Linked DNA regions of Homo sapiens. The protein of the gene in region 1 interacts with the protein of each later gene in a biochemical or structural test. Each region holds a gene or a part of one and is shown on either strand. Other genes may lie near its edges. The genes, in order: SIK1 and HDAC5.

The links.
Region 2: of the proteins of SIK1 (region 1) and HDAC5, one has a biochemical effect on the other in vitro, tested with the Homo sapiens proteins (3 studies listed by BioGRID).

Annotation. Positions count from the first base shown.
Region 1 is NC_000021.9:43,423,208-43,439,476, forward strand, and holds the start of SIK1 (serine/threonine-protein kinase SIK1), read right to left. Parts: upstream 3,925-16,269; 5' UTR 3,803-3,924; intron 2,986-3,802; 5' UTR 2,972-2,985; coding exon 2,816-2,971; intron 2,317-2,815; coding exon 2,200-2,316; intron 1-2,199. UniProt on the Homo sapiens protein: Serine/threonine-protein kinase involved in various processes such as cell cycle regulation, gluconeogenesis and lipogenesis regulation, muscle growth and differentiation and tumor suppression. Phosphorylates HDAC4, HDAC5, PPME1, SREBF1, CRTC1/TORC1.
Region 2 is NC_000017.11:44,109,773-44,125,379, forward strand, and holds the start of HDAC5 (histone deacetylase 5), read right to left. Parts: upstream 13,870-15,607; 5' UTR 13,732-13,869; exon of another isoform or gene 13,482-13,731; intron 10,824-13,481; exon of another isoform or gene 10,666-10,823; intron 10,332-10,665; exon of another isoform or gene 10,215-10,331; intron 7,933-10,214; 5' UTR 7,744-7,932; coding exon 7,722-7,743; intron 6,224-7,721; exon of another isoform or gene 6,140-6,223; intron 1,494-6,139; exon of another isoform or gene 1,210-1,493; intron 1,032-1,209; coding exon of another isoform or gene 1,029-1,031; coding exon 957-1,028; intron 1-956. UniProt on the Homo sapiens protein: Responsible for the deacetylation of lysine residues on the N-terminal part of the core histones (H2A, H2B, H3 and H4).

The DNA.
Region 1 (16,269 bases):
AAACCCCATCTCTACTAAAAATACAAAAATTAGCCAGGTGTGGTGGCGCGTGCCTGTAGTCCCAGCTACTTGGGAGGCTGAGGTAGGAGAATCGCTTGAACCCAGGAGGTGGAGGTTGCAGTGAGTCACGATCCATAGCGCCACTGCACTCCAGCCTGGGCGACAGTGAGACTCCATCTCAAAAAAAAAAAAAAAAAAAAAAGATGCTTCAAAGATTGCTGCTTTGAGTTATAAATCTAAAAAGAAAAGTGTTCTATAAATTCTAGCAGTTTGGCAAGAATTTTAACTGCCCCGCCCCTGTGGGTGGTACAATAACTCTAAGACCACTGCTGACCCGTCCCCAACTGAAGAAAGGGAGGAGGAGGAAAAGAATTAAAAGTCAAAGTGTTTGAACTTTTTGAAAACTTGAAAAAAAGAGGGAAGTGTCTCAGCAGGGTTCTGGGGCCCCGGCCAGCGGAATGAAAATTAGACACTAGTGGCCGGGCGCGGTGGTTCATGCCTGTAATCCCAGCACTTTGGGAGGCCGAGGCGGGCGGATCACAAGGTCAGGAGATCCAGACTATCCTGGCTAACACGGTGAAACCCTGTCTCTACTAAAAATACAAAAAATTAGCTGGGTGTTGTGGCGGGCGCCTGTAGTCCCAGCTACTTGGGAGGCTGAGGCAGAAGAATTGCTTGAACCCAGGAGGCGGCAGTTGCAGTGAGCCGAAATCGCGCCACTGCACTCCAGCCTGGGTGACGGACAGAGACTCCGTCTCAAAAAAGAAAAAAAAAAAAAAGACAGGAAGAAAGAAAGAAAAGAAAGAAAATTAGACATTAGCATCAAAACCAGAGGAGTAAAAGTCATTGCTACACCACTGAATTCTATCATCTCCCAACAGTTAAGAATCACATACAGCAGCAGTAAGAAAATGCACCTCCAGAAAAGACCTCAGCAGCAAACACATGGGCAATTTGTTTCTTTAACGGAGCTAATTCCACACAATGGGCAAAGGAGAAGAACAGGAAGAAAAGGAAGGTACTACCATTAGGGTTCAGCCCTTGAGCAAAGTCAAAAACAAAACCAGCTCAGCCCACTCCTGAGGAAATGGGCTGGGCACGCTGCACAGGCAGTACACCAGTGGCCATGGAGCACACAACTTAAAAATGACAACAGAAACAAAACACAAACCAGGCGCACACGGCATGAATTCTGTGCTTAAAGACACTGAGCAAACTGTCGTAAGCTCCACCAATACTGCTACTTTTATTTTCAATCTAGTGCAGAGGCTTTTGGGGGATAATTTCGAATCATAATTCTCTCTCCTACCACACTGTACACCGAGCTGTCCTAATTGCACAAACACACACAACAACATCCCAGAGTCATCTCACATTCCATTTCATAAGAATCATTACGAGGAACTTCAACCCAACACAAATGGATGAAATAGCACCTGCAAAGAACTTCTTCTGCAAGAAGACTTGATTTCACCTTGCAAAAGTGGTCATTTGTCATTAGGGAGGTGTAAATGATTGCTTTGCTGTTCTAATTAAATTAGTACTTATTTCCTGATGATATAATTTATTAATTTCAACATGAGAACAAAAATTAAGTCACAAAATAAACCAACAGAGAGACAGGGCAAGCCATGTTCCTAGCATGGATTAAATGACAAGCTCCTTGCTCTTACTATGGAAAAGTATTTTCATCTCTCCGTTTTTCATGGAAGAGTTTAAATAGGGAAAACAAATGCTCACTACTGTCCTTGCAAAAATAAACTAATGAAAACCAGTAAGAGCAGCTGGCTTTAAAGTTTAATAATTATCTGCAAAGGCAGAAGTTTCCAGTTTCACTCAAATTTGTCCTTTTATACTAAATGCGTGACCTGTGGCAATACCTACAGATAAGTTTGTCTGTTTTCATAGTAAAGCAAATTTACAACAGACTTCTACACATTTAAAACTGGATCAGGTTAGGATACTAAATAAAATTCTAATGAAGCAAATCTCAATTATGATCCAAAAGCAATAAAATAATTGTAAATATATCTGCACAGCCTATAAAAATCAATCTATTTACCTTATACAACCAAATGCCCAACTTCCACACACTCCCCAAAAGGGAAGCCACCTTCAGAAATTGCAGACTTATGCTGTTGGAAATAAAATATAACACATTTGCCAGGATTAGCAGAGAAAGGCAAGCTGACCCCTTACCTGGTAAAGCTTTATGATGTGTGGATGGTTCAGAAGCTTCATCAGCTGAACCTCACGATAGATTTTCTCCAAATTGCTTGAATCTAATCGTGTTTTATCAATTATTTTTATTGCAACCTACAAATTTAAAAAGAAAAAGGATATTCTGTGGGTTTTTTTAAAAAAAGAAAAGAAACCCTCAACCTAATTTACACATTTCATTTTTTGCAAGTTAATTTCTCAACACTCTGTCTCCAGAAGGTCACAAGAAGTTGGGAAAACATAACCAAAGTAACCACTAATGTTATTTAAAATAATCAGAGTTAAGTAAGTGACTTAAGTATTTGCAGGCTCACTTTACAGGGTTTAGCTCTGAGTCCATGAACCACTGCAATCTTAGGTTGGTCCTTTTTTTTGCTATTATCCTCTCTGCTTTCTCCCAATATATGTCCAAATTATGCAGCAACATAATATAAAGCATTATTTTTCTTTACCGAACTAAAAACGGTTACTATTTACCCACCACGACAATCAAGCCTGGAGCAGTGAATCTGCATGGGGTCCACCCGCCAAAGGTCGGGTCGCCCCGGGTCCAGTGGGGAGGCCCCGCCGGCTGGGTCCCACCGCCCCCACGCACCTGCGTTTTGGTGACTCGATGCCGCGCCAGCTTCACCACCGCGAAGTTGCCTTTGCCCAGGGTCCGCTCGATGTCGTAAAAACCCACCCGGAGGGGCTTCTGCTGGCCCTGACCCTGGCCCGCGGGGTCCGCGCTGAACTCCGACATGATAACCATGGCTCCGCGCGCACCTGCGGGGCCGCACAGAGCTCAGAGCCCACCAGCGCCCCCGCCGCCCGCGGTCGGCTCCATCCGTGCCCGCGGAGCCCCCAGTCCCCACGGGACGCAGGGACCTGCTCCCACGCCTGTCGCCCCCACTCTATCCACGGGCCCCTCCAGCCCCGTGGGAGGTGTGGACCCGCCCCCGCCGCCCGCTCCACCCGGACCCCCGACCCTCTTGAGCCCCGCGGGGCGCACGGACCCGCTCTCATAGAGGCCCCTGCCGCCCGAGTCCGGTTCCGTCCCGATCCCGGGACCCCCTGAGCCGGGATTCCACACTCGCCTCCCGCCGCCCGCTGTCGGTTCCGTCCCCACCCTCGACCCCTTTAGCACCTCTGGGCGCGGACCCGCTCCCACACCTGGCCCTGCCACCCGAGGTCGGCTCGATCCGGATCCCAGGACCGTCCCCTGCCCCGCTCCCACACCCTGCCCCCGCCGCCCGCGATCCGTCCGGTCCCCACCCCCGACATCCCAGGCACCTCGGGGATCGCGGACCCGCCCCCCACACCCGGTATCTCCGCCCGCGGTCGGCTCCAACCTGACCCCCGGCTCCCCAGCCCCTGAGCCCCGCGGACTCACTCCTACCCCGGCCCCCCAACAAAGGGGAGCCCGAGGGCGGCCAGGCCGCCAACCCCGCCCGCGAACCCCGCGCGCGCAAGGCCAGGGACCCTGCGCGGTGGCTGCAACCCCGAGCCCCGGCCCGGCGCCCGCGCGGAGCCCCCACGGCGGCCACCTCCGCCCGCCCGGAGCCCGCCGCTGCCGCCGCTGCCGCCGCTGCCGCCGCCTCACCTCCGCCGCCACCGGAGCGCCCAGGCCAGGAAGCCGCCCGCTCGGCCGCTGGCGCTGCTCGGGTGCCTACTGCTCCGGCTGCCGCCGCCGCTGCTGCTGCCTCCGGGGCCGCGCCGCATGTCAGCCCGGAGCCGCCGCGCTCCGCCGCACGCGGCGCCCGGCCCCGCCCCGGCCCGCCCCGGCCCGCCCCCCGTAGTCCCCGCCCCCTGCCCCGCCCCCGCCGCCCGGGCGGGGGCCGCCCATTGACGTCGCTTTGACGCCAGAGCGACGCGCGGCCGAGCGCCGGGCGGAGGGAGAGCGGGAGATCGGGCGGTTGCCAAGAGACTGGCGGCTCTGACGCGCGCGGGATGAGGCCGTTGCCCTGGCGACCGCGGGCCGGTGACGTCAGGGGCGCCCGCCGCCCGAGGCCCGCCCGCCTGCGCTCCGCCGGGCGCCCCCTCCCGGGCGCTGGGGGCACTGCGGGCGGCCCCACCGCCGAGGGCGCGCCCGCCCCTCCACGCTCGGGCACTCGGGCCGGGTCCCGCGGGCGCCTTGTGCTCGCTCCCTCCAGGAGGGGACGGCTCTCGGGCAGGGGTCGCCGGCCCCTCCACGCGGCCTGCGTTCGTCCAGACTCAGAGCCTCGGGACGTGCGGGGGCCCGGGGGCCTCGCGGGCTCGCGCGTGGGGCTGGCGGCGCGGATGCCCTGGGGCGCTGCAGACCCCGAGAGGCCGCTTGCCCGCGGGGACGTCAGCCGCTTTTGCTGTTAAAATCTGAAATGTTCAGCAAGTTAGAAACTTGAAACCTAAGGAAGCGTGACCGGCCGCTCTGGAAGCCCCCGCCGCGCGGCCGGTCCCGGCCCCGGCCCTCAGCGGCGCTGGCGTCTGCGCGTCCCGGGGCTGCCCCCGCAGCATGTGGGGCTGGGACCCTCTTCCCGCGCGGGCCCCGGGCGGACGCTGCGGGCGGTGACGGAGCCAGGCCGGCCGCCTGGGTAGGGGACGGGGGCGCGGGACCACTTGCTTGCCCGTGGCCGATGCCTCATCCGAACGGAAAACGTTTTCTTCAGGGGAGACAGAGGCTGTGGGCGAAGGTATTTTTTAAGCCTGAGGACCCATTTGGGAGTTAGATTCTGGATCGAGCCTAGGGTCAGTTTTCCTTGTGTTAAATAACACTACTTCACAGAAGGGGGAACGAGAATTCAGGGGAGTTGGCACAAAACTTGGAACCCTTCTCGGGAGGCTTTCCTGCCTGGACGGACGCCTGGGAGGAGGGCCCGGAGAAACGAGGATGAGCTTCTCCTCATTCGCCCGAGGGTCTGACCACAGATTTCCCAATCGCCACACACACACACACACACACACACACACACACACACACACGGGTTGTTTGGGAGTCAGTTGGTTTTCAAAGGCTTTCAAGGAAATGAAGAGTCCCAAAGTTTTCCTTAATCGTTCAGAGTGTTTTTCTTTGTCCCAGGTTTATATACCAAGAATACGGGGGAATATTTTTAGTTCCTTTCAGCTGAACAGTGTACAACTGCCTTTTTTCCTTTTGGAGGTCCCAACACCCTGTTAATCCGCTCCTAGGAGAACTAAACAAAAACAAGGCTGGACGTCGTGTCTCCCGCCTGTAATCCCAGTGCTTTGGGAGGCTGAGGCAGGAGGATCAGTTGAGCTCAGGAGTTTGAGACCGGCTTGGTTAACATAGCAAGACCTCACCTCTATAAAATACTTTTAAAATAGCCAGGTGTGGTGGCACACGCCTGTGGGGCCGGCTACTTGGGAGCCTGAGGTGGGAGGATGGCGTGAGCCTGGGAGGTTGAGGCTGCAGTGAGCTGTCATTGCACCACTGCACTCCAGCCTGAGCAAGAGAACAAGGCCCTGTCTCAAAAAAGAACAAAGATAAAAGGCGGGGTGGGGGAGAAACCAGGCCCCTGATCACACTCACCATTCAGTCCCTCAGCCTGTGACTTGAAATACTGCCCCCCGCATCCAGGAAGCAGGCTTCCCCACCCCTCCCACCCTAGCCAGAGTCTTCCAAAAGGTCTTAGGTATTTGCAAACACCTGGCTGGCTGTTTGGAAACATTGCATCAGCACCAAATAAAAACTGCAGCCAAAACTGCCTCCGCAGAACAGGTCCCCAAACTCAGGTGCACTTGACCTTTCACCCTGACCCAGCCCTGAGCTTCCAAAACCCAGAACAGCCCTGTGCCAACCATGGCCATCCTGTTTTCCCTTCCCTGGGCCCGTGGGCAAGGAGCTCGCTCTGCAGAGAAAGGCAGGAAGCACAGAGGAAAAGGCCAAGCTTGGAACGGCTGTCCCGTCTCCCCACTGGGGGAACCCCTGGCACCCTCATAACTAAGTCTGTGCTTCAACCTGGTCTCTGTTACCCAATGTCTTTTGTTGTTGTTTGTGTCCTTGACCCCCCGAGGCTGTATTTCCTCTCAGAAGCTTTGATTTCTTTTCTGTTTTCTGGTCTTCCGTGCCTTTAACACGAGGAAAAATAAAACACATGGTGTGAGTGTAAGGATGGTACAAGCAAATGATTGGAGAAGCTCCTCACTGAACATAATGGAAGGAATGCTCCCAAAGTCTGCAGGAACGGTACTTTATTATTATGGTTTGCATATTATTACAGATTTGTGGAAAACGGCAAGTCAGTTTTCCTTTCCACATGGACTTTCTTCAGCTTGTCTTATGATTGCCGTGTTTCTGGAGTTCATCTTGTTTTTTAGGCCTTAAGACTGGAAACCCCAACAGGAAATGGGTCCATTTATTATTCATAGTTGTAACGCTGGCCACTGGCATGTCACAAAACTCTCAAAATCAATTGATAAACACAGAGAATGGAGCGTGGGGCAGCATTTTTGCAAAGGGATGGGTGCCCAGCTGGCCCCAGTGCCGCCCTCTGTGAGGAAGGAATCTCCCAGTGCAGCCAGGAGTCAGACGAGTTCCTCTTCCCGACCCTACCCTCCCATCTTCGACGCCTAAGGCCCTTCCCTGTCTTCCTGGCTTTGCTTCAGGTGGTTTTGTACTTTTTAAATTTTGTTTTGGTTTGTTTAGGCTTCAGCCTAGCGGCTTTAGGTGCCAGAAAATCAGATTAACCACTGCAGCGGCATCCTTCTCAGGGACCCGGGGGCCACGTTGGTCATTTTGCCCCATTGTATCTGGAGAGCTTGACAGACAGACATGTGTGCACTAGGTCAGGAAGCCACGGCCCTGGCCTGGGAAGAGGGCAGGTAGGAGAAAAGCCCCCAGCCCCCTCCACCCTCAGGGAATGGCCCAGTTGTCCACAGGTTAAGTCAAGAATCCCCCGCGAACAGGTCAAACCAGAGACTGCCCAGTCCCAGCGTCCGCCCCCAGGGCATTGCTTCCTTCACCTCCTACACTTGGCTCCCTGTGGTTCCGTGGCTGCCACAGTTGTGTGGATCCTACCGGGCCCAGGGCCCCTCCCCATCTCAGACAGCACCCACTTTCAGGCTAGGCCTTCCACGGGCTGCTTAAATGGACCACGAAGGCCGGCAAAGCAGCAGAAACGTGCCTGTTCACGGGCCAGTCGGCCCTCCCCGCTCCAGCCCTCTAGGGTTTCTGGTTCCGGTTTCTGTCGCTGCCGTTAGTGAGGAATTATTCATGTGGCCAATGCGTTTTCTTGACATTTAAGCAGGGCTGTGGCCGATATCAAGGCTGAGGACCCAAGAGGCCTTTGGGTGTCTGTGTCCCTGAGCCATATGCTGAGGTCGGACGGCGGGGGAGGGGGGTGCAGGAAGGGGCCAGCCCCAGCGAGAGTCAGCCAGGCCCCAAACAGAGCCAGGGGTTCCCCCGGGGGGGAGTGCTCACTTAGGAAGAGCACCATGGACAGCCTGGCAGGAGGTCACCCTGTGCTGAGCAGGCAGCGCTGGAGTAAACCACCTGCCTCTCTGTAGGAAGAAGGAAACCGCATCCGCAAACGGAGCAAAGGTCCCCAGAGGCAGAGCAGAAGCCTCTGGGATGCTGCAGCTTTGTGCAGACACTGGGGACCAGGACTGGAGCAGGTGCTGGCCGTGCTCTTTATCCTGGGCACTCTGCCAGGGCCACACGGAGCGTGGCTCCCGGGAGATGGAGACGTCTGAGTGTCAGCTCAGGTCTCGGTGTTTCCAGGTGACATGCTGGCTGCTAGTGTAGAGCATGGTAAACCATCTTTTTTTTTTTTGGTTACTATTTACTTATGCAAAATAATGTGAGTTTCTGCCATTTGCAACAAGTGTGCCAGCTGCAATGAGTCAGCGGGTGGACACAGGTGAGCATGGCCAGACTGTGCCAGAACATGGTGACAGACAGACATGCTTCGAAGTTCACTGTGGGAAGGGACAGGTCCCCAGAGAGAGGTGAGACGGTGCAACGCGAGGGTGAGTTCGGAGTCATCCTCCAGATGTCCACAAAGGCTCGAGAGGCCCTGCTGTGTGTCAGGCACTGCGTGAAGGTTGTGGGCACAGTAGGAGGGACACAAGACACCTTCTCTCGAGGACCGTTGGTTCCAGTTGCGGAGACAGTAACAGCATAAGATGATGAGTAAGAAAAGAATGCTGGCAGGAAAGTGGCCATGGAGGGAACTGCTTCCGGGCCTCTCCGTGGGATTTGCCAGGCGTGGACTGAGCGAGGACCTTCCCTGAGAACACCAACTGCTCCAGGAGAGAGAAGAGGTGGAGCCCCGGCGGGGGGCATGGGGCAGGAGGCAGCCACCCACACCTTCCCTCTCTGAATGCTGAGCAGAGGCTCTCAGCAGAGGGGAAGAAGAGCAGAGGCCACGATTGGGAAGACAGACCCAGTGGGGGTCCTTGGCGCCGTCCACATCCATCTGCAACCTGCTGCCCAGCGCCTGCCTGCCCGGGGTGTGCACAGAGCAGTGTGGTCTGTCCCGGCTTCACGGCCTGACACGGCCAGGCGAGGATGACAGGGAAAGGGAGGCAGGGACTTGGGGCTGTTGGAGCCAAGCTGAGGAGCAAGGAGCTGCGATGGGAAGCGGGTGGCAGGAAGGAGCGTGAGGCCTGTGGGTGGAAGGTCTCTGGCCTTGGAGATTGAAGCGTTTCACTTGTGCATCTCACAGCCCAGAGAAGCCAAGCCCGGACCATGGGGGAGAGAGGAGGACCCCCGTCTCAGGGCGGGCTGAGGAGACGCTCTCTCCACGGCTTCCGGATGGGTCTCCCTCCATCTCAGCTGCATCTATGGGAAAACGATGAAATGCTCCCTCCACTGCCGGGCCTTCTCTTATAAAGCAGGTTTCTTCGAAGTATAAAAATTAATAGAAAAGGTTCCATAGAAAATCAAGAAAGTAAGTATGTAAAGATGAAAACAAAAAGCACCGGAAATGCTCTTCATAGCTGACGTTTTCTTATTCACTTTTTATTAAAACAGGATGAGGCGTCCTGCCTTTTCCAGCCTTATCTAGGAAGTGTCTTGCCAGGTCACCAAATGGCAAGCAGAACCGTAAGCTGAAGTTGTCTGCCTAGAATTCCACTGTGGCAATGTTCAGCATCCCGACTGGACAGCTCCGTGCGGCGGCATCGGGGGCGCGGCGGCATCGGGGGCGCGGCAGCATCGGGGGCCCTTTTCATGCCATTCAAGGCCCCGTGGAAACAGACACCACAGCTCAGCATGAGACTGTGGCCCCACCTGACCTGGCTCATCCATCCCCAGCCTCTCGTGGTCCCCGGCCCTATGCCGACATTTGGCACTCGATGAGCCATTTCTCCACATTTCAGGAGCCTTGTTTTAAGACAGCCTGGCTGTCTGAGAGCCACCGGAGTCGAGACTGGATGCCCGGCCTGGTGCCCGTGGGCCAGCACCGCCTGAGGAGGAGGGGTCTCTGGAGGCCACAGGCAGAGCCACTGAGAGGGATCTTTAAGCAGAGGGCCCCACACACCTCCTGGGACCCACGGGTGTGGCTGCCATGCAGGGTCTGGGAGCTACAGAGAGTCGGGAACCAAGGGCGCGGTGGCTCACACCTGTAATCCCAGCACTTTGGGAGGCCAAGGATCACGAGGTCAGGAGATCGAGACCATCCTGGCTCATACGGTGAAACCCCATCTCCACTAAAAATACAAAAAATTAGCCGGGCGTGGTGGCGGGCGCCTGTGGTCCTAGCTACTCGGGAGGCTGAGGCAGGAGAATGGAGTGAACCCGGGAGGCAGAGGTTGCAGTGAACCCAGATTGCCCACTGCACTCCAGCCTGGGCAACAGAGCGAGACTCCGTCTCAAAAAAAAAAAAAAAGAAAGAAAAAAAGTAAAAACAAGAGAGTAGGGAGCCAAGTCCCTGGGTTGCCAAGTCAATCCGTGGAAGCCCCTGACTTCGAGCAGGACACAGGGCCCTAAGGACAGCCCCAGCCCCTGCAGTGTGGCCTGCAATGGGTGTCATTCATTTTGACCTGGCTGTTGTGGTTTTGGGTGGTATTGTTATTTGTTTGAAAAGAAAACACATGGGCTGCGTATGGCATGAGCAAGTACAGACGTCATTGGGATCGGCTAATGAAAATGACAGAGTACTCTAAAGTGACACCTTACAGGGACGTGGTGATGTGGCACCAGGCCCAGTGGCACCAGCACACCACCGTCTCGCTGGCATTTCCACCGTGGTCCCTGTTAAACCAGAAAGAACGAAAGTGTGATGGGGAAAAATAAGTATGTGTTTCTTGTAAAACACAGCTCATTTCAAAACTACTGAGAACAAGGGGACAGTTTGAAATTGGGCAGAGCCCCTTGGGACCAGCTGGACCAGGAAGAAGGTCCAATCAGCTCTTCCTCAGGGCCAGGAATCTCTCGGTCACTCCGAGGCCTGGAAGAAAGTTTCCAGAACCTTTTTTTGCACAAATAAACTGCAGATCTGAAATCAGCAAGAAGGTTCAGGACCTGGGCCCCCAGGATTGGAACCACGGGAGTCTCAGATCCTCAAACTAGCTGGGTTTGCTTCAGTTTTCTCAGGTGGGACGGGCCACCCTGGGTTTCCCAGGGTGATGTCCCAACAGTGGAGGTGAGATGTCACAGAATGGAGGATGTGATATGATCTGTAACATGGAATCCAGCAGAAGCTCCAGCACTTAAAAGACAGGAAGCAGTGGAGGGCCTGGGTGTCCCAGCCTTCATCATTCCCTCACCTGGAGCAGTTGGTGTCCTCAGGGAAGGTTCTCATTCAGTCCATGCCTGGCAGATCCCATGGAGGTGCCCGGGTGATTCTGGCACAAGGGCTGGAAGATTCCTTCTTTGATCCCTGCTGGTGGCCGGAGCTGGCTCACAGGCCTGGGGCTGCTCAGCTGCAGGACAGTGGGAGGAGGTGGGCTCTGGGTTCCTCAACCCGGCTCACAGCCCTGCTCCGACTGTCCCTGCTGGGCACCCCTGGCGGTGATATCATCAGCCTGGGCCTCCGTTTCTTTTTTCTTTTTTTTCTTTTTCCTGAGACGGAGTCTTGCTCTGTCTCCCAGGCTGGAGTGCAGTGGCACAATCTTGGCTCGCTGCAACCTCCACCTCCCAGGTTCAAGTGATTCTCCTGTCTCAGCTTCCCGAGTAGCTGGGACTACAGGCATGCACCACCACGCCCAGCTAATTTTTGTATTTTTAGTAGAGACGGAGTTTCACCATGTTGGCCAGGCTGGTCTTGAACTCCTAACTTCAGGTGATCCGCCCACCTTGGCCTCCCAAAGTGCTGGGATGACAGGCGTGAGCCACTGCGCCTGCCCTCCATTTCTTTATGAACAGTGTGTGGTCCCAGCATCCTGAAGTTGGTGTGAGGTGCAGGTGGGACGGCTTTGGGGCAGGCCCCAGTGCAGACGGCCCTGCTGCTGCCCCTGCCCGTGCCGCTGCCCCTGCCCCTGCTGCTGCCCCTGCCCCTGCCCCTGCCCCTGCCGCTGCCTCTGCCCCTGCCCCTGCTGCTGCCCCTGCCCCTGCTGCTGCCTCTGCCCCTGCGTTCCTGAGCAGGCCACCATGCTACTCTTTGGGAGTCCTTTTTCTTCTTTTTAAATGAGGCTTGATTGGCTTAGGGAGAAACAGGAGACACCGCATACCATGCAGTTAAAAATGAAACTCGGATTAAATGAATATTGAATTCAGTACTGTACTGGCTTCCTAGAGCTGCTGAAATGCAAACTGGGGGCTTAAAACCACGGAGACGTATTCCCCCACAGTTCTGGGAAGTAGAAGCTCGAATGCCTGTTGGCAGGGCTGAGCTCCTCTGCAGGCTGTGGGGAAGGACCTGTCCCATGCCTCTCCTGGCTCCTGGTGGCCGCTGGTAAGCCTTGGTGTCCTGTGGCTTGTAGACACATCTCTCCAAGTGCTGCCTCTGCCTCCATCTCCGCGTCTTCCTGCCGCCTCCTTATAACGACGGCAGCCATTGGAATGGGGGCCCACCAAAATCCAGTCTGACTTTGTCTTCATTTAACTGATGATATCTTTAAAGATCCTGTTTCCAAATAAGGTCACATTCTGAGCATCCAGGGGATGCGAGTTTTGGGGAGACTCGATTCCACCAACACCAGCATCGAAGAGGGCAGGGCACAGAGATGAAGCTAAGGTCCAGGGCGCACACACTGATGGGCACCCTTGAAATAACGGCAAGGTTGGTACGGGCACATCTCGATCGGAGGGGCCGAGGGGTGAGGGAGGGTGGGGAGGAGACTCCCAGAATGGGAGACACCAGCTAAGCAGTGGGGCTGGGAGAGGGCTCCAGGATAACAAGCAGTTGGGCGGGGGACGACACAGGAGAGCACACAGCGGGGGAGCAGGGCAGGGGACGACAAGGGAGAGAACACGGCCAGCCCAGGATCCTCGCCCTGCCTTCGCCTCGAGCCCCAGACCAGACTCACCCTGACGATGCCTGCTCCCCATCTACTGCCTCCAGGGACCCCCTATGGGTTCCCCCACTCATAAAGAATGCCGAGGAGTTAGGAATAGGACAAGCACGTGTCCCTCAAGGCTACTGTTGGGATGCCCAGGACTTGTCTGAGCCCTTCTCTAGACCGGCTGCTCATCCACCCGCTGCCTCTAAAACCAGGTAAGAGAAGGGGAGAGAGAGGGTCAGGAGATGCCCTGGCCCAGGAGCAGAAGCTCCCCTGGAGGCCTCGGTCTGTGGGCCTCCTGCAGGCTGCACAGGGGGGGCCACAGCTGTCCTCACCCAGGGGCCATGCCCTCCCAAAAGGAGGCCACCAGAGGCCCCTTGTCCCACATTTTTGGAGTGTGGACAGCCAAACTGGGTCATTCAGACCCAACCTGGTCACTGTGGAGGGAATGGGCTGTGCCCCACTCCCCACCCAATACCAGGCCGAGGCCAGCAGGTCTGAGGGTCCCTGTGGAGCTCTGTCCTGCCCCAGCCCCGGCCAGCTGTCCTACTGGCTCCTCTAGTCCTCTTCTTAGGTAAGGCTGAGAAAGTGGGTCAAAGGCAACAACCTCAGAGCCTCTGGCCGCTCCTACCTGAAGGGCCGGGGCTCTGTGTGGGTGAAGACCGGCAGCTTCCTGGAGTAACCAGAGGGCTGAGCCTCCTCCTTGACTTGTTCGGAGTGTTTCTTCACTGACCGGTTTACCTGGGTGTGCATACGGAGGGTGAGCCACTGGAACAGTGAAAGCGTCCACCCTTCACTGAGTCAGTCCCTCTCCCGGAAGGGGCCAGGGACAGGGCAGGATGGCTGGGCATTGCAGGAGATTCTTCCCCTCTGGCCACATTCTCCCCATGCTGGGGAGGTGGGGGTCAGAAGCCCACCAAACAGACGGGGAAGTAGGGACAGGTGAGCCAGACCGGATAGTGGGGCACCACCCTGTCCCTGGGAACCCCCATGACTGCCTCGTCTCCATCCCCTCTAAAATGCCAGGTCCACAAAACCACGGTGAGATGCCACCGCACACCCATTGGGATGGCTACCATCAAAACACAACAGAAAATTACAAGTGTCTGCAAGGAAGTGGAGAAGCCGGAGCCCTTGTGCACTGCTGACGGGAATGTGAATGGTGCAGTCGCTGTAGGAAATGGTCGGTGAGTCCTCAGATGGCATGGTGATCCCACAGGCAGTTCACACGAGCAGGAGGTGGGACACTCAAACATCCATCCACAGATGAATGGAGACACAGAATGTTCCACAAAATGGAATATTACTCAGCCTTAAAAAGGAAGGAAGTTCTGAGACATGCTACAACACAAAGGAACCAGGAGGACATCATGCTGCGTGAACGAAGCTGGTCCCAAGAGGACAAATGCCGTATGGTTCCACGTGCACAAGGTCCCTGGAGTACTCAAATCCACAGAGGCAGAAAGTAGAGTGGGAGGTGCTGGGGCTGGGGGAGTGAGTGTTTAATGGGTTCAGAGTTTCAGTTTGGGAAGAGGGAAAAGTTTGGAGGTGGATGGTGGTGATGGTTACACAGCAGTGTCAATGAACTTAACGTCACCAAACTGTGTGCTTTCAGATGGTTAAAATAGTAAATTTTATGTTATGTGTATTTTACTGCAATAAAAAAATGTTAAGCCAGGTCCCATAGTTCAGCAAGAACCAAAAGGGCCACAGGACCTCCCAGTAGCTCCCTGCCCCGTCCTTAGAAACCTGAGCCCCCTCTGGCACGGAGGGAGGCCTGGCACAAGAGGCTGGCAGTGGGGTGGGCCTTGGCAGCCCACCTGCAGCCTGGCCTGGGCTCCACATCTGCGAGGACTACACCGGGTGCTCCCAGGAGCTCCGAGTTCTCAAGAGACACCTCAGCTTTCTCATCCCCAAAACCTCCTTCTCTCCATTCGGAGCGTCTCCCCTGAACCCGACATGCTTCCCCAGTGGGAACTATGCTCTCCCCTGCCCCACCCCGGTGGACGGGTCCTGCTGCTGCCCTGACACCCTGGCACTTCAGGCAGCCACTGGAAGGGCCCAGAACCAGGAGCACAGGTGCTCCTGAGCCATGCCCAGCCACCCCCGGTGGGGGCAAGCTCCGTGGCTGCGCCACGCCCTGGAGGGCTTTAGAAAGCAGCTGTGTTTGCTTTGCCCCTAGATGTCACTTAGAAACAGTGTGTCCCATAATTGTTTTCTGGGGATATTTTTGGCTTTTTTTTTTTTTTTGAGATGGAGTTTCGCCCTTGTTGCCCAGGCTGGAATGCAGTGGCACGATCTTGGCTCACTGCAACCTCTACCTCCCGAGTTCAAGCGATTCTCCTGCCTCGGCCTCCCAAAGTGCTGGGATTACAGGCGCGCCACCATGCCTGGCAAATTTTTGTATTTTTAGTAGAGACGGGGTTTCCCCATTGTGGCCAGGCTGGTCTCAAACTCCTGACCTCAGGTGATCCACTCGTCTCGGCCTCCTAAAGTGCTGGGAAACAGGCATGAGCAACTGCTCCCGGCCATGTCCCATAATTGAATCTGTGCTACCAAATTTATATTTTATAAATATATATTTTTAAAAATTCCAGTTTGTAGCAAAGATGGTACTGTGGTTTGAAAGTGTTCCCCAAAGTTCATGTGTCGGAAGCTTGATCCCCAACATGGCCGTGTTGGGAGATGCGGTCTCATGGGAGGTGTTTGGACCGCAGGGGCACGACCCTCACAAGTGGGTTAATATTTTATTACAGCAAATATATACTAAGTTTGTTGGCCTTTGTTGGGCCTGTTTATTACATCTTGGATTTTCAGTGACTTTTTTTCTTCTACCTGAGTTTAAAACAGTGCACATGAAAGGATTTGGAATTTTAAAACTTTTTTCTTGATGATAAAATTGAATATATGATTATTATAAAAAATATATATGAAAATAATAATACTAACATATAAGAAATAATTCATAATTCTACCACTCAGATATCATCACTCAGTATTTTGGTGCATTTTTTTCTAGTTGAATAGATGTAAATTTTTAAAAAATAAATTTGGATTGTACCCCATATGAACACTCTTATAGCCTTTCTATTTGTAGAAAGAGAATTCCATGTATCATATATAATTTAAATACATTATTCTTAATATCTAATATCTCATGTTTAACATGTAACATTCCCATTTATTTAACATTTCTATTTGTAGACATTATTGTTTCTACACGTTACTATAAACAGTGTTATTGTGAGCATCTTTCCCAAAACTCTTAATTCCTATGTGAAATTTTTCCCTAGGATAAAGGCTTAAAAATGGAATTACCAAGTGAAAGAGGATAAAGTGTCTTAAAGCCTTTGATATATGTTGCCAAACTGCTGGGGCACCCCTGACCTTAAACTGTGCCAACATTTAAGAATTTTCATTTTAAAAATATTTTGCTAAGTTCAGAAGTGGAAAATAATATCTGTATTAGTTTCCTAGGGCAGCCATAACAAAGTATAAAAAACAAGCAGTTCTAAACAACAGAAATGTGTCCTCCCACAGTTCTGGAGCCAGATGTCTGAAATCTGTGTGGGCAAGGCCATGTTCCCTCTTCAGCCTCCTGGCGAGATTCCTTTCATGCCTCTTCCAGCTTCTGGAGGTTCTCAGGGACACCTGTCAGTCGTTGGCTTACAGATCCCTCATCCAGTCTCC
Region 2 (15,607 bases), on another chromosome or scaffold:
ACTCCCCATTCACACGCACACACACAGACACCCACACTTGAGTGCCAAGCCACTGCCAGGAGGGGCTGAGCAGGCATGGGTCCAGCAGGCCCCTCCCTGGAGGAAGCATCTTGTGGTGCCGGCCTGGTGGGGAGGCTGTGCCAGGAAGGCTTGATGCTGCCAACAGGTTCCTGGGAGTGAGGGAAGGAGCGGCCCAGCTCTGGGGGACCCCACCCCTAGCCAAGAGCCAAAAAAGTTCCTGCTGAGAAGGTGGCAGGATTAGGGGGTCCCGAAGCCCATCTGAGCCAGAGTAACACCTCTTCATCCTCATGAGATGGGAATCAACCCAGACCTGGGGAGAGGAGCGCCATCGGGAGACAGCTAGGGGCTAAGGCAGCCAAGCCCCTCAATATCCAAGCTGCCAGCCTCTGCCTAACTCCATCATGACTGCACCAAGCCTCCCCAAGTGTCTGATTCTCAAGAGACTCCTGGCTGGGGACTTGCGGAAGTCACTGTACTCGATCCTGTAGCCCCAAGAACCAAGCCAGAGGAGCTGGAGTAACCTTTATTCTTGTGGACACCCAGCTACACCTTCTTCCCTTGCCCAAACTTGGGGAGCGGGCAGCATGGAGGCGGGTCACTGACCCACTTCCTCCCCTCTGACCACAGTGCCAACTAGGCCAGGATCCTCCAGTAACCCCCAGCCCCCAGCAGTGGATGCCGACCCTGCCAGAGACTGAAGGGACTGGAAGAGATGCAGCAGAGTACAGCGGAGGGGCACCGGGGAGCAGCAGGCTCTGGGCAGGGAGGGCAGGGGCCTCTCTGAGCAGGGATCCCCCAGCCCTGTGTATTCTCAACAAAACTCTCAAGACAGATCTATGCAGGACCCTATCTGTGCAAGGCTCAGGGCCAGATGCTCAGCCCAGGGACAAGGATGCCAGATGACAGAGGGCAGGCAGGGACATCAAGGCACTTACCTGTCACAGGGATGCTGTGCAGAGAAGTCCGCGGCAGGATTTCCAAGGATGGTTCCCGACCTGACATCCCATCTGCTGAGAAACAGGATTCTGTCTCATAGATGGTCTGCAGCATCTCCACGAGCCCCTGAGCCTTGGGCACCAGCAGCATGCCAGGGAGGGGGCCGCCAGAGGCGGGGAGCAGACCGAAGGGAAGGTGGTCGGGCAGCCCGCACAGCACAGGTTCCCTCAGGCCACTGCCGACGGGACCCACACTGTAGGGAAGTGCCTCATCCGGCCTGGGCACTCCTGGCGGCAGGAGGGGCAGGGAGGCCCTAGAGCTGCAGGCCCAGCTCTGCTCTAGAGGGGCATCCGACCACCAGCCTCTCCCTGGTTCCTGGGAGCTGGGGTATGGCTGAGCACTTGGGACAGGAAGGGGAGCTCAGCGGGCAGGCGGGCTCTGTGTTCCCTCCCAACCCTGGGTGACAGCTCTGGGCCCGGCTCCCTGCTCCTCCTTCCCGAATGAGCCGCCGCCGGCAGCTGGCAGGAGACTGAAATAGCAGTTGGGGGAGGGCCCTGTCTATAAATAGGTGGAGCATGCTCAGGGAGCTGCGGGCGGGCTGCCAGGAGGCCCCATGGGGGGGGAGGCGGTTCTACCCCAGGAGGAAGCGCCAGGCGAGGGGGATGGGAACAGGGGAGGGCCTGCACTCAGGGCCAAGGCCACAGCGCTGGGTGGCCAGAGGCTGGGCTGGGGAAGGGCGCCGGCCAGGGTACCCATGCATCTGGGAGCGGCTCTGGCTGCTACTCTTGGCAAGCAAGCCAGGGGATGGAGACCAAGAAGCCAGACTCAAGCCTCCGTCTTTCTTCTTGCCTTCCAGAACAGGTAAAGGAATTGGAAGGGTCTAGGAGAGGCTGGCACACAGGCACCTTCCCTGGAGTTCTAATAGCCCCATGGAGGTTTGCTTAACTTCTGCCCTCCCACAGAGTTGAGAGGTGCCTCCCCACCCCTTCAACCAGCAGAGAGACCCCTAAACACCTGCTAAATGGCAGCTCCCTCCCGCTCATTCTGGAGTGTCGCCTCCAGAGGCTGCTCAGCCTCAGCTTCTTTCTAGGGTGTAGGGATACTCCTCCTGGGCAGACAGGTGTCCCCTGGTCCCCTTTCCTCACCCCAATCCAGGAAAAGGGACCAGGGAACATCTGCTAATTCTCAGAGCACAGGTAGCTCCTCCATGGCAATGTGCCAGGTGCAGTGCTACGAACATCATATACATCATCTCATTAATTCTGCGTGGTGACCTTGGGAGAGGCACAGATGGGAAAACTGAGGCACAGGGAGATGAAGTCACTCACCCTAGGTCATAAAGCTGCTTACATGGCAGGGCTGGGATGTCTGAGGCTCAAGTCTGAGCTCTAACCACCACACTCCACTGCCTCCCATTTCCCAGGGTTTCTATTAACAGGTACAATGACCCCTGTGCTCAAGTAGGAAGAGACTTGAGGTTGGAACCTCGCTAAGGAGAGTCAAGAGTTTTTCAGCATCCAGCCATTACCCACCAGCCAGCCTCAGGCCTGGCAGCACAGCCCCTGCTCCCTGGGTCCTGGGGCTGGTGCACCATGAGGACCAGTGGCACTCCCCCGCCCTCCCCACCGCTGGCCTGCCCCTGCTCCTCAGGTTGTGCCTCCCACTGGTACAAAGATCCCACTTGGCCCCCTGACCTCACTAGAGCCTTTTAATAGCCTGGTTATTCCTGTGTCTATATCCCCCTCCCCCTTCCTGATGTCACAGTTGCTATTTTGGAGCCCCCTCCTTGACCCCCACTCCAGGCATGGAGCCAGGGACACCTGTCCTCTCTCTGGACTGGATGACCTCACCCTCTTGTTGGGAGCCCAGGAGAAGCTGGCCAACCAAGGACACAGTGGCTGTGGCTCCTGGAGCCCAATTTCCCAGCCAGCTTCTGCCAGTCAGGGATGGCAAAGGGGTCTCCTGCCCTCAGGCTGGGAGTGGGAGGATTAGGGGGACCACACCTATAGGCAGAGGCAGGCTTTCCCAGGCCCTTGACTAGCAAGATGTATATGTTGCCAGGGGGTACCCAGTGGTGGACCAGCAAAGAAACAGGGGTCTGGAGCTGCAGCTTCTAAACCAGGGCAGATTCTAGAAAAAGGGCAGTGGAACAGTACTCCCTCAGAGGCCTAGTGCTGGTGGACATTCAGGGTATGGCTGGGGATCTTGTTCACCACCCCTTGCCCCAACCTCATCCTGGCCAACCAGGCCCTCTCAAGAGGAAGGGAAGGGAAGGTCTCCATCAGTGGGGTGATGGGCAGCAGATTCAAGGGAGCCCAGAAAGCCAAGAGCAGCAACCCCTCCCAGCCCAGGACTCCTCCCACCCACGCTAGGAGTAACCAGAAGGGCTGGCTAGCCCTGTCCCAGCTCTCTCTGCCTGCCCCAGGCATAGGAGAGTGTGGCAGGAGAGCCTTATTCTAAAGAAGAGGAAGGCGTCAGTTACCAGGACTCAAAAGCAGGGCCCCCAGAACCTGGAGCACCCAGACATTGAAGGAAACAGGACTTCCTGCTTAGGGAAGATAGTAGCACCCAGGACAGGGACACCCAGAGGTGGCTGGAGCCGGGAGCTGGGGAGCCAGCTCCCAGCACCATTACAGCCTCCAACAAGTAGGAAGCAAAGTATCAGACACAGTCAGAAAATCCTCAGTGCAATTCCCAGAACCCTCCAAGGCAATAAGAGAGGAGATCTGGGATGGGGACAAATGTCTTTTTTTCTTCTGAGATTCAGGTGATACAAGGTCCTCCTAATGTCTAACTTCAATCCTTCATGCTTTAGCCCCCCTCCTTGCAATTCACTTCTCTTTTCCGTTCTCTCCCAACCAGCACACCCATGTATCATCCCACAAACCTTATGGAGCACCCACCAAGCATGGGGTACATGAGCTTCACCCAGAGCCAGGACTGTCTTCCCCAGACTCACTCTGCCCCTCCCTCAAAGGCTGCACTCTGACCTCCTAGCCCTCTGAATCTGAAGGAGGAAAAGAGCCTAACCCTGGCTCCAGGTTCCATTTCCTGAGCCCAAAGGCTGTGGGGATGGGGGGACCTTGACCAAAGGGAAGAAAGCAAGGTCTGCTTAGTGTGCAGTGAAAAAGCCAATGGCTGGCCCAGGAGCACCCTGGATGAAGTGTGAGATGCCAGCTTCCCTGAGACCCAGATATCAGACCTGCCCACCCTCCTGTTCTTTCCTGCCCTTCGAGCCCAGTCATGCTGGAGCCCATCAGCATGGCCTGGGAGCTGCCATGTGCCAGCCAGGCCCCATGCTAGGTGTTGGCTGAACCCTCTCATTTGAAGCCAAGTCCAGGAAAAATGTGAACACCTACTTTGGCATCTTCTACTTCCCCTCAGGGTTGACCCTGCCTTCTCTGGCCATTCCATTCTAAGCCTTCAATCTCTTTGGAATGATAGAGCAGGGAAGAGGAGGGGAGAAGCAGGTCCCGCTCTGCAGTGAGCACAGAGGTGTGCCAGGGGGCATCTCAGTAGAGAAGGGAGGCCAGGAGTCTACTTCTCAGACCCCAGCCCCATGCCAGGATTGACCCACTTTCTCACTGCCTGCCTTCCCTGGGGGCTCTGAAGGAGGCAGAGCCCAAGGCTGGAAGGCAGGACACCGAGGTTCCTGGCTCCACCCCACACCCATGCCCCAGTTTCTCTGGTCACCCAGAGAGCAGGCGTGGGGGGGGGGGGCTGCTGCCCTCCATCCTGGAAAAGGGAAAGAGAGAAAGTGTGAAGGTTCTGGGAGGCGCTGGGCAGGCAGGTGTTGTCATGAAGCTTGTCTCCCTCCCACACTGGGGAGAAGGATCCTGGCCGCCTCCTCCATGGCCCCGCTGCCACCCAGACTGGCTTGCACAGTGGGCCTCACTCTTGCCTGCTCTTCTGGGCAATGGCACAAAGAGGGTACAACCAGAGCTGGCCTGGGTCCCAGGCCCCTGGGCAGCTCCTCCAACCTGGTTGGGCCGAGTCTGAGCTGAGGGAAAGTTCTGTCAGCCTTTCAGCCCCACTGAGGAGAACATGCAGAAGCAAACAGTTCCAGAAAAATAAAGACAGCCTTAATCCTCAAACCCCCTTTTGCCGGAAGAAAAGGCAGAGATCAGGGAATGGTCTCAGGGAAGCAGGCAACCCCATCAATAGCCTCCGCCTGTGATTCCAAGACTGCAAAAGAGGTAAATAAAGTCAAAGGCTGGTAGGCAGCCCGAGCCAGAGGGAAGTCATCAGCTCCCACCTTCCTGGGCAGTGGGCCCCAGAAGGAAATCACTCACAGTCTCCACCTGCTGCCCCTCACCAAAACAGTCTCTCTTGCTAACATGTTCACTGTGAGGACCAGGGATGGCCCATCTCATATTTTCTTCTGTCTTCCACAGGCTGAGCCTGTTGGTGATACTCAGTGAGGACTTGCCAAACTGAAAAGCTCCTACGCTGAGAGGACTTGAGGGGAACCAGAAGCTCTGCCCCTTACAAAGCCTACTGTCCTTTACTCTGGGGAAAGAGGAGCAAGTGTTCAGGGAAGTGAGGAAAAGGTGGGAGGCGCTCAGGGGCTGCAGCAGACCCTGGGGACTAACCATTTCCTTCCTTCCCACCTCTTATCTCCTGCCCCATGGCCCATACCTTTCCTTCTTGGGGCTCTCTACAGGGAAGTGGACACCCGCGTGCTCTGGCTTCAATCGGTGGTCTCACTTTACTTCCGCCGAGTTCCAAGGCATGTGGTTTCCAGGCTTCTGCCAGGCGCTGGGCACCCCAGCCCTAGCCCAGATGCCAGCCCAAGCTCTGGGAATAGCAGACGCTAGGCCCCTCAGAAAGGAAGAGCTGGGGGGAGGCTGACTATCTCCCTGGCCCAGGGCAGCTGGAACCCCACAACTGGGAAAGCCAGTCCAGAACCCCAGGAACACTCTGCAGGAAGGGCCTCAAGCAAACATCCCCAAGCAGTGGCCCCAGTTCCAAAGCCTCTCAACAATCCTAAAATGAGGTTCCCAATCCCTGGCCCCCTCCTTTTTTCCTTCTTTCCCCAACACAGAGAAGACAGCATCTCCCCCTGCTGGGGGGAGCTGGAAAGCCAGGCAGGACGCGGGGCCCATTCCACAGGCCCACTCAGGACGCCCCTCCTGGCCAGGGCTCAGCAGTGGCTCTCAAGCTGCCAGCCTCCTGCGTTGGTGGACACGTCCAGCTCCTCCAACACTCTTGTCAGCTCCCACAGAGGTAGCTGCAAGGGAAACTTGGACCGCCAGCATCTGGAAAGGTAACCCAATAACTTCATCTATCCTGGGTTGATTATCACATTTCCCTGCAAGGGAAAGAAACCCCAAAGCTGGGAAAAATCCTTTCCAAGCCACCAACAGATGCCGCTAGGCAGCTTCAATTCCCTTGGCCAAGAGTTAGACCCCAGCCCCATGGGAAGCAGGGACTGCAGATGGCTCCTGGACAGGTCAGCGTCACAACTCAGAGGAAAGAAGTAGCTGGCACTACTGCCCGACATGGCTGAGCTTGCTGGGGTAGTGTCCAGCCAAGATGCACGAGGGACAGATGAGGACCCAGGCCTCTCCTTTCCCTTCGCCATCCAGCCTCAGAGGGGCAAGCAAGAGGGCAGAGCTGGGCAGCCCACCTGTCCCAGCCCCTAGGGGCTGAATGAGGGCAAGGGCAGAGGGAGGAATATCTGAAGGAGAACAGCAAACCCTACAGAAAGGATGATGGGGAAGAAAATGTGGGGTGGTCTGGATTCCTCCCTGATGCTGCTTCTGTACAATCCTGCAAATGGGTATTCATCCTAGGCCCCAATTGCCCTATCTCTAAAAGGAGAAATATCCACCTACCCCTACATAAAAAAGATGAGGAGTACGATGGGCCGTGGAGAGCTAAAGTTGAGCAAGATGGACCTTTAACACTGTGTGGAAGGAGACACCCGAGGAGGAGGAGACGACAGCCACTACTCTGACCACACTGCCCCAGGACCCTCCTGGGAAACTGCTGAGGGTCCAGCTCAGGCCACTAGAACACAGCCTCACAGGCATACATCCAGACCCAGCTGCACATCAAGCTGCCTAGAGTCCCCCAAATAGACTATTTCTGGCAGCACTGGACAGGGTCCTAGGAACAAAGAGGAACAGGAAATCTCAGAGTAAAAGACCCCAGATTAGCAATCTACCATATGAAGGGCCCAAGAGGAAGAGAGGCAGTCTACCTGGACTCAGAGGAGAGCCGAGACTCCTCTACACACGTCACCCCACTCCCACCCAATGCCACGCACCTGCACACGGAGGTTAAGGCCCAGTGCCCTTGTAAACCTCCACTAAGAAAAAAGTATGGAACACAAACATTCCACTAAGTAAAGAAGCCACCATCACGAAAAGGAAGCTGAGCATTCTGCTATAGTAAAGAAATTCCTCCAACATCATCCCAGACTGCCCAGAGAGATTAAGGGATACACACTGCCCCCTCAGGCCCACCTGTCTTGGCTAGCAGGGGAAGGCGAAGCTGGAGCTGAACACCCCTAAGTTGAGAGGGCAAGCATGGGGGGCAGAGTAGGACCCATTGCCTTCCCAGGACCAGACCGGACCATCGATCCCTCGATTCCCAGGTCTACCTCATGGGCCCTTTCTTGCAACACTTCTCCACTCCTTACCCCCTCATTCCCTTATAGCTCAGACAGTAAAGGTCAGCTGGCCTGGAAGGGAAACCCACACAGCCCATTGCATCCGAAGCTACCCCAGGGTGCTCTTCTCCAACCTCCCAGCTCTTACCCGACTCGTTGGGAGAGTTCATGCCGGCTCTGGGCCTGCAGGAAGCTGGCGTTGGGGGCTGGGACGGGAGGGGGTGGAGCTGCGGTGATGTCAAGAGAGACAGACGATAACAGACAGACGGACGGGACGGGAGCCCGGGGCCGCCGTGCCTCTAATGCCCATCCGAGGCCATCCTTCGGGGCGAGGCAGTCAGGCACTCAGAACGGCATCCCTGGGGAGAGATGGAGCAGGGTTAGAGGCCCCTAACTCAGGAATCTGAGAGTCGAAGGAGACCTTGGAGCTCATCAGTTTGTACCTGGGGATGAGGGATGAGAGGGAGGGATACCTGCCCACAGCCACAGGAGAAATCTGCAGAACTGGATAGACCCTGGTTTCTTATCTTACTAACTGATGAGGCTCCCAGAGCCCAAGGGATAGGAAATGGCTATGGTGGCCAAACCCAACAGACCCCTTTTCAGGTGAGTGTCTACTGCCAGCTGGGGAGACCCTATAGACTCCCAACAGTGCCTGCCATGGGACTAGGTGTGCACCAAAGGAGAAAGTGCAGGGGGGCTTCTGATCTGTATCCATAGCAGTGGGGAGATGCAGGGCTGATCTAGAGTCCCTGGCAGAAGTGAAGGGAGAAACTGGTATCCCAGCCTCCATAGCCTAAGCTGGGACTTCTAGGGGTCTTCTCCCGACTTTCTGATCCTTGTGCCACCCAGCTCTGGAAATATGGATGTGCTTCTGTTTTGGTCTCCCACAGTTCAACAACAGACCAGGACAAGAGCTTCTCTTTCCAGGAATTGAGAAAGTCAGAGACCTCTCCATCCCAAATCTAGTACCCTTGGCCTGGCAGGTGCAGGGCCCAAGCCCAGCACTTTGTGTATATTGTACAGGTTGTGCTCTGTGTAAGGAGGTCTGGCCCAGGGAGATACGAAATCCAGCCTGTGCCCTGCCTGCCAAGCCATGGCCTGACATGCTGAGTCCACCCAAAACAAGGGACGATTTTTTCCCAGTTTGTACGAAAGCAACAAAAGGCCCAGCAGTAGCCCTGCTGAGGCCAGTATAGTAAAGGAGGAGGTATTACAGGACCACGGCTTTGCCAACCCATGCCCACTCCTCCAGTTCTCCCCCACAGTTAGTCCTCAAGCCTCAGACACTATGCATACAGACACCTGGCCCATCCCTAAACGGCCCACGATCCACCCCAGACATGATCTCATTCATTTGCTTCCAAATGAAGGCAGGCCCTCCAATACCCAATGAAAGCAAGGTAGCAGGAAGCCATCAGAGGAGGCTGTGAGCTGCTGCGAGTTTAAGCCCTAACTCTGCTCCCCAAGCCTCGAACCAGCAATCAGCTCTGCCCCCCTAGACAGCCCCACCTCCTGGCAGGATTAATTCTCAGTAAGCCTTACATTCTCATCAGATTCCCAAGGGTGGGGTCCATTTGGAGCCCAGAAGCCCAGAAGCCAGCTATGGCAGAAACACAAGAACATGAACACACATGCGCATGCACGCACACATGCACACACGAGACCCTGAGGTCCCAGGCTTGCTGCTGGGACCACAGGGCTTGGACTCTATGGCTGGAGAAAGGTGCACTCAGATTGGGGGGCAGAGTTGAAGGGGCTAAATTGCTCCTGACGGGCACAGGTATGGGATTAAGACAAAAAAGGCTGCGCAGGCAGGGCTGAGGCCAAGCTCAGGAATGTGGCAGGTAGGGCTGCTGGTGCTCTGGCAGGGCCCACGTGGGCAGGCAGTTCAGCCTGTGCCCACACCAAGGCTGGCACCCAGTCCTGCTCACACCCTTTCCCGTGGGCTGGGGAACACAGGTTCAGAAATGCCCACGATTCCCAGCAGCCTGAGTAGCCCAGTCCATCTCCACAGTGAGAGGCACCTCCACAGCAAGGTGCTCAGAAGGGGCACAGCCCCAGTGGCACAGAAACCAGGTTAAGGTTAGCCCCTAGCCCCCATCATCCTAACCCACCTACTCTCTCTGTGGGTCTTAAAGATGCTGATCCTCACCCCTGAGGCAGAAGAGGAAGGGAGCAGCTCCTTGAACTCATGGTGGGCTCGGGACTCATCTACGTCTACTCCTCCCCGTCCTATAAAATTCAGCAGGATCCCTGGGCCCCTGGGCCCTGTCCACCTGTAAAGAGTGTCTGCCAACACCCCCATCAAGTCTCCCAAGTGAACCAGAGCCACAGGCTGAGCCTCCCTGAGAAACAAAGCAGTGTTCATGGTCTGATCGGGACAAGCACAGATTCCTGTCTGGGGTGGGACATGAAGGGGAGAAGGGGAGCCTGATGTTTAAAACCTGAGCTGTTTGTTCCCACATCTGCCAGAGAAATCTGTTGGGTCTCAGTGGGAAGTCAGGGACACCAGGAGCTGTGTCCCAGATGACCTAACACTTGGATGCCAAACCAGGGAGTGGCCCAACTTCCAGGACATCATAAGCAGACAGACCCCTGCCCACCCCACTACCTCACACCAACTCTTTCTTCCAGACAGACCCCTACCCCACTCCGGGATCCAAAACCACCTCCCACATCCAGCCAAGACAGCCGGACAAGGATGAAGGAAACAGGCTACATCTCACCCTACAAGCTCAGGGCTGAGCCTATGGAAGTAGGGTGGAAACCCCAAACTCTGGCAAAGGGTGGGTGGAGGAGGGCAGACAAGTGAGGGGCACATGGTACAAAGCAATGCTCCAAAGGCCATAGGTTCACAATGTTACCCTGTAGAGATCTTGTTCCTCAAACAACTCCCTCAAAATTCCTGGGGAGTCAGGTGTCCCTTGAAGACCCTCTCTGGATCCTGGAGTCCAGTACCACCATGCAACCCCCTCCCAACACACCTGCTCTGGCCCCAGGCCAGGGTACCCCCTAGGTCATAGGTGACAGGGTCAAGCAGTGTGAATCAAGTCTTGGGAGTCTGAGATTGTTTCACTCTACCCCGACAGTTTCATCAAAAATTACAAACCGGCCAGGCGCGGCGGCTCACGCCTGTAATCCCAGGACTTTGCGAGGCCAAGGCAGGCGGATCACCTGAGGTCAGGAGTTCCAGACCAGCCTGATCAACATGGAGAAACCCTTTCTCTACTAAAAAAATACAAAATTGGCCAGGTGTGGTGGCGCATGCCTGTAATCACAGCTACTCGGGAGGCTGAGGCAGGAGAATCACTCGAACCCTGGAGACAGAGGTGCGGTGAGCCAAGATTGTGTCATCGCACTCCCGCCTGGGCAATAAGAGTGAATCTCCATCTCAAAAAAAAAAAAAAAGTTACAAGCCAAGACATCCCACCCAAAGGTCAAAGGCACTAGGAATTTATCTTGACCCCTCCTGACCATGGCCACAGCCTACCACTTTCCTCAGCCTCTGAGAGCTTCTGTTGCCTAGTGCCTCCCCCAAGCTAGGCCAACAGAAGCCCAGAAGGATCAGAGCCATGAAGGGTGGCTGACTTGGATGTCCAGGCCCCAAACCAGGGAAAGGGGGAGGGTGACAGGGAAGGAAAAAAGGCACCAGGCTGACAAATTCATTTTTGCAATCGGCCCATTTCTGTTTGTCTGCTCAGACGCAGCTCCAGGCATCTGCACAAGCCAGATGGAGGAGGCTGCTATTTCTAGAAAAAAAAAAAAAAAAAAAAAGAGAGGGGGGTGGTGAGAGGGGAGGAAGGGAGGAGGCGGAGGCAGAGGGCAGAAGACGGGGTCTGTTTGCCCTAAAACCTCAGGCAGAATGATACCCTCTTCCCAGCACTACCAGGCAGGGTCCCCATTCAAGAAAGGGCTGCGGCTGGGCCTGGGGTGAGGTGGGATAGGGAAGAAGAAAGGCAGAGAAAGTTTAATTAGCTAAAGTCGGCTACAATAGGCCCCCTCACGGGCTACATCAGGTTTTCATTCATGAGCAAGCTACAGTGCTCCAAAAATGCCAAGAACCACCCCCCCTTGCTGTCTCCCCCTTCCCCCCCCTACTGCCACCAACAGGAGTGCGTCCTCTAGCAGGCTGGCTGAGCCTAATGCTGTGTTCCAGACATCCCTCCTCAAAGGGATGTGAGTAGGAAGAATTAATTATTAAAGAGCAGCTGGTACTTCAGCACCGACTGCACTACCCCCAGCTCCTATAGCTGATGCCCCCTCCCCCACTATGCGGGAACACAAATGACCCCCGCCCAACATTCCCAGGCCCCATTTCTAAACACACAATTAAGATGCCACCCCTACGGAAGGCAAAGCAAACCTTTGTCTCTGCAGCTACTTGGGGTGGGTGGGGCATGTGAAACTGCTGCCCCCCTCCAAATTACATGATCCAGCCAAAGTAGGAGGATATATTGGAAAAGAAGGGGAGGCTGGCACAGAACTAACATTTCCTCCATCCTTGCCCCCAAGTAACCCACACTTGAGATCTGTCTCTCTGGTCTCTGGCATGCCCACATTCCCAGGACAGAGTGGAGATACTGGGGGCCCATTTCTCTAACTCAGAGAGACCCCTACTGCTTTGTCAAGAAAGCCCAGATCCAAGTTCAAGTGAAGAGAGGGCAAAGAGAGGAGTCAAGAAAAGAGGAAGGAGACAAACCAAGATCTCCCCAAGCTTTGTGTTTAGGGAGGGAGAGGAAGGAGGGAAGACTGGAATGAAGAAGCAGGCAGCCCCCAACATGGCTCATCCACCATCCAGCCCAGCCAGCCTAGCCCAGCCCAGCCCAGCCCAGCATCTCAACAGCCAGCATAGGCTCAGGGTGCCTAGGACTGGGGAGACTGAAGACCATGCCTGCCTGCCTACATCCTCTGAAACTAAGAGGAAGCCAAAGGCAGGACCCAGACCCAGACTGCAATCCTGCAAGGCAATCTGGCTAGGGGTCCCTCTGACCAAGACTCCTGGATCTCACCCTCCCCCCCACCTCCTTTTGTTCCCATAATCTGGCTCCATCCTCCCCTCCCAGTTGGACACTGAAACCAATCACCACCACCTCCCCAAGCTCCAAATCTAATCCCAGATCCCAAAAGCATGGTGGTCACTGACTGAGTGATGGGTCCCTTTTGCACCCTCCTAAAAGCAACTGCAGCTGTTACCTTTCCTCTTTAGGGACACACCTCATTTCAGAAGGGGTATCAGCCAGGGGTATCAAGTGGTCATCTCCTCTCCCAAAGGAAGCACCCAACCTCCCCACTTCAACAGCCCCCACCAAGCTCCCAGATTAATTACTTACACCCAGCCAGTTCTCATCTTCCCCAGGGCCCCAGGGAAGGGTGGGGTGGAGAAGCTGACTCCCCCCAAGTTAATAAGGCACTGGTAGTGCCCCCGCTTCCATGAGATACAGATCCAGGATGAAAAATGGGGGGCATCCACCCAAGACAAGAAGGGGTTGGGGGGGAGCTCCATTTCATCTCCTAGCTCTCGCATCCTGGCTCCAAGGTGTCAGACAGGAGAAGAGGGTGGCAACAAACGCAGTAACGCCTCACAGGAGACGGGGTGAGAATAATGGGAGAGAGAAGTAAGGTGGACTCCGCAGTCCCCCTCCTCATGCACGGAAGTCAAGGACATAAAATCAAGGATGCGTTCGTAGCTATGGGGAGAAGCGCTCTGGGTGGACAGCACCCCTCACCTCAGAGTACCAAGAAAGGGGTGTCCAGCGAAGAGGGGTCTGCACAGAATCCGGGTGCAGGGCTCAAATGGCTCTGCAACGCAACATGCGCCGCCAGGGAAGGGGCAAATCAGACAACCCCGGCCGGTCTCCGAGCCATTTGGGGGCGCAGGGCGCGAGAAGGCGGGCCCCTCCCTTACCTGTAGGGAAGGCGCCCCTGTCTGGGAGGGGCAGGGAGGGGCGCGCGCAGCAACCCCGATGTCCCGCTCACGGGCTGCCGATGCTCCCGGGGGGCGCCGGCTGGCTCCCAGGGCCGGGAGGAAGGAAGGGGGGCGCGGAGCGCGGCGCGCGCGCTGGGAGCCCGCGGACAGAGACAGCAGGAGGAGGGGGCGCCGCCTCGCGTCCCGGGGTCCGGGGAAGATGGGATCTGGGCCGGGGCGGCGCGCTCACCCGCTGCGGCTCGAGCTCCGGCTTCGCGGGCGGCGGCGGCAGCAGCGGCGGCGGCAGCGGCGGCAGCACCTCCTCGACGGCTCCTCCATCTTTGCGGCGGCTCCTCCGGCTCCGCTCGCCGCCGCCACCAACAACAACATTCGGAGACGTCACTCCCGTCACGTGACCCGACCCGGAGCTAAAAATAGACCCAGACCCCCCCCCCAGCCCCCCCCGCCTTCCCCTTGCCCGCAGCCACCACCAACCCCTCCCCTGCCTCTCGGCCCTCCCCGCCGGGCGGGGCCAGCGACGCCATCGTGACAGCTCCTTAAAGGGCCAGTGCCCAGCACAGGGTTCGGCCGAGACGGGGTGGAAGGGAAGGGATCGGAACCCAGCGAGCAGGAGTGGAAGGATCGCTGCAGGGGCCGAGTATGGATGCTGGGGCTCAACCTTTGGATTGTAAAAGTTTCCTCCTTGCGCTCCCCGGACTTTCTTTTCAAAACGTGGATGGTGCAATCGTCGCTTGCCTAAGCTGCTCCCCTAACACGCCCTCCCGCGGTCGGGGAGGGGACCTGGGGATAGATTCCCAGGGGCTGGGAGGGCCACCGCAGCCTCTGCAGCGGGGCCTGGCTGCGGGTGGATGGTTCGGACAAGTCTCGAACTCGCCAGCTCTGACCGCACACACTGCATCCGTGCCAGGGAAAGAAAAGCCTGGGAAAGGCCAGGGTATGGCTGTAACACTCCAAGGCCTTCAAAAGGGCAGACCAGCAGACCAGGAGCCGGAAAGACTTCCCTGACTTTGGTGCCATCCACGCTACATCTCCTCTTGGTACACAGTATGAACATGTTTAATTAGACCTAGACAATTTGTCAATGACCCAGCAATTCCACTAACAAAAATGTATTCCAAATAAATAAACGTTGTTATGTTAAAAAATGAACATGAGATTGTTTGTAATGATGTGAAAAGTTGAAAACAACCTAAATATCCATCGATAGGGAATTGGCAAGCAAAGCAGGAGACATTCATTCAGTAAAATATTATCCAGACATTAAAAGTTTTATAGGGGACCGGGCATGGTGGCTCACGCCTGTAATCCCCGCACTTTGGGAGGCGGAGGCAGGCGGATAACCTGAGGTCAAGAGTTTGAGACCAGCCTGGCCATTATGGTAAAACCCCGTCTCTACTAAAAATACAAAAAAATTAGCCGGGCGTGGTGGCAGGCGCCTGTAATCCCACCTACTCAGGAGGCTGAGGCAGTAGAATCCCTTGAACCTGAGAGGCGGAGGTTGCAGTGAGCCAAGATCGTGCCATTGCACTCCAGCCTGGGCAACAAGAGTGAAACTCTGCCTCAAAAAAAAAAGTTTTAAAGGGGCCAGGTGCATTGGCTCTTGCCTGTCATCAATCCTAGCACTTTGGAGGCCGAGGCGGGAGGATTGCTTGAGCCCAGTTCAAGACCAGCCTGGGTAACATGGCGAGACACTGTCTGTATTTTAAAAAAGAGGCCGGGCGTGGGCCGGGCATGGTGGCTCACGCCCGTAATCCCAGCACTTTGGGAGGTCGAGGCTGGTGGATCACGAGGTCAGGATGTCGAGACCACCCTGGCTAACACAGTGAAACCCGTCTCTACTAAAAATACAAAAAATTAGCCGGGCGTGGTGGTGGGCGCCTGTAGTCCCAGCTACTTGGGAGGCTGAGGCAGGAGAATGGAGTGAACCCGGGAGGCGGAGGTTGCAGTGAGCAGAGATCGCGCCACTGCACTCCAGCTTGGGGAACAAAGCGAGACTCCGTCTCAAAAAAACAAAAAACAAAAACAAAAGAAGAAGAAGAGGCCAGGCGCGGTGGCTCACGCCTGTAATCCCAGCACTTTGGGAGGGCGAGGCGGGCTGATCACAA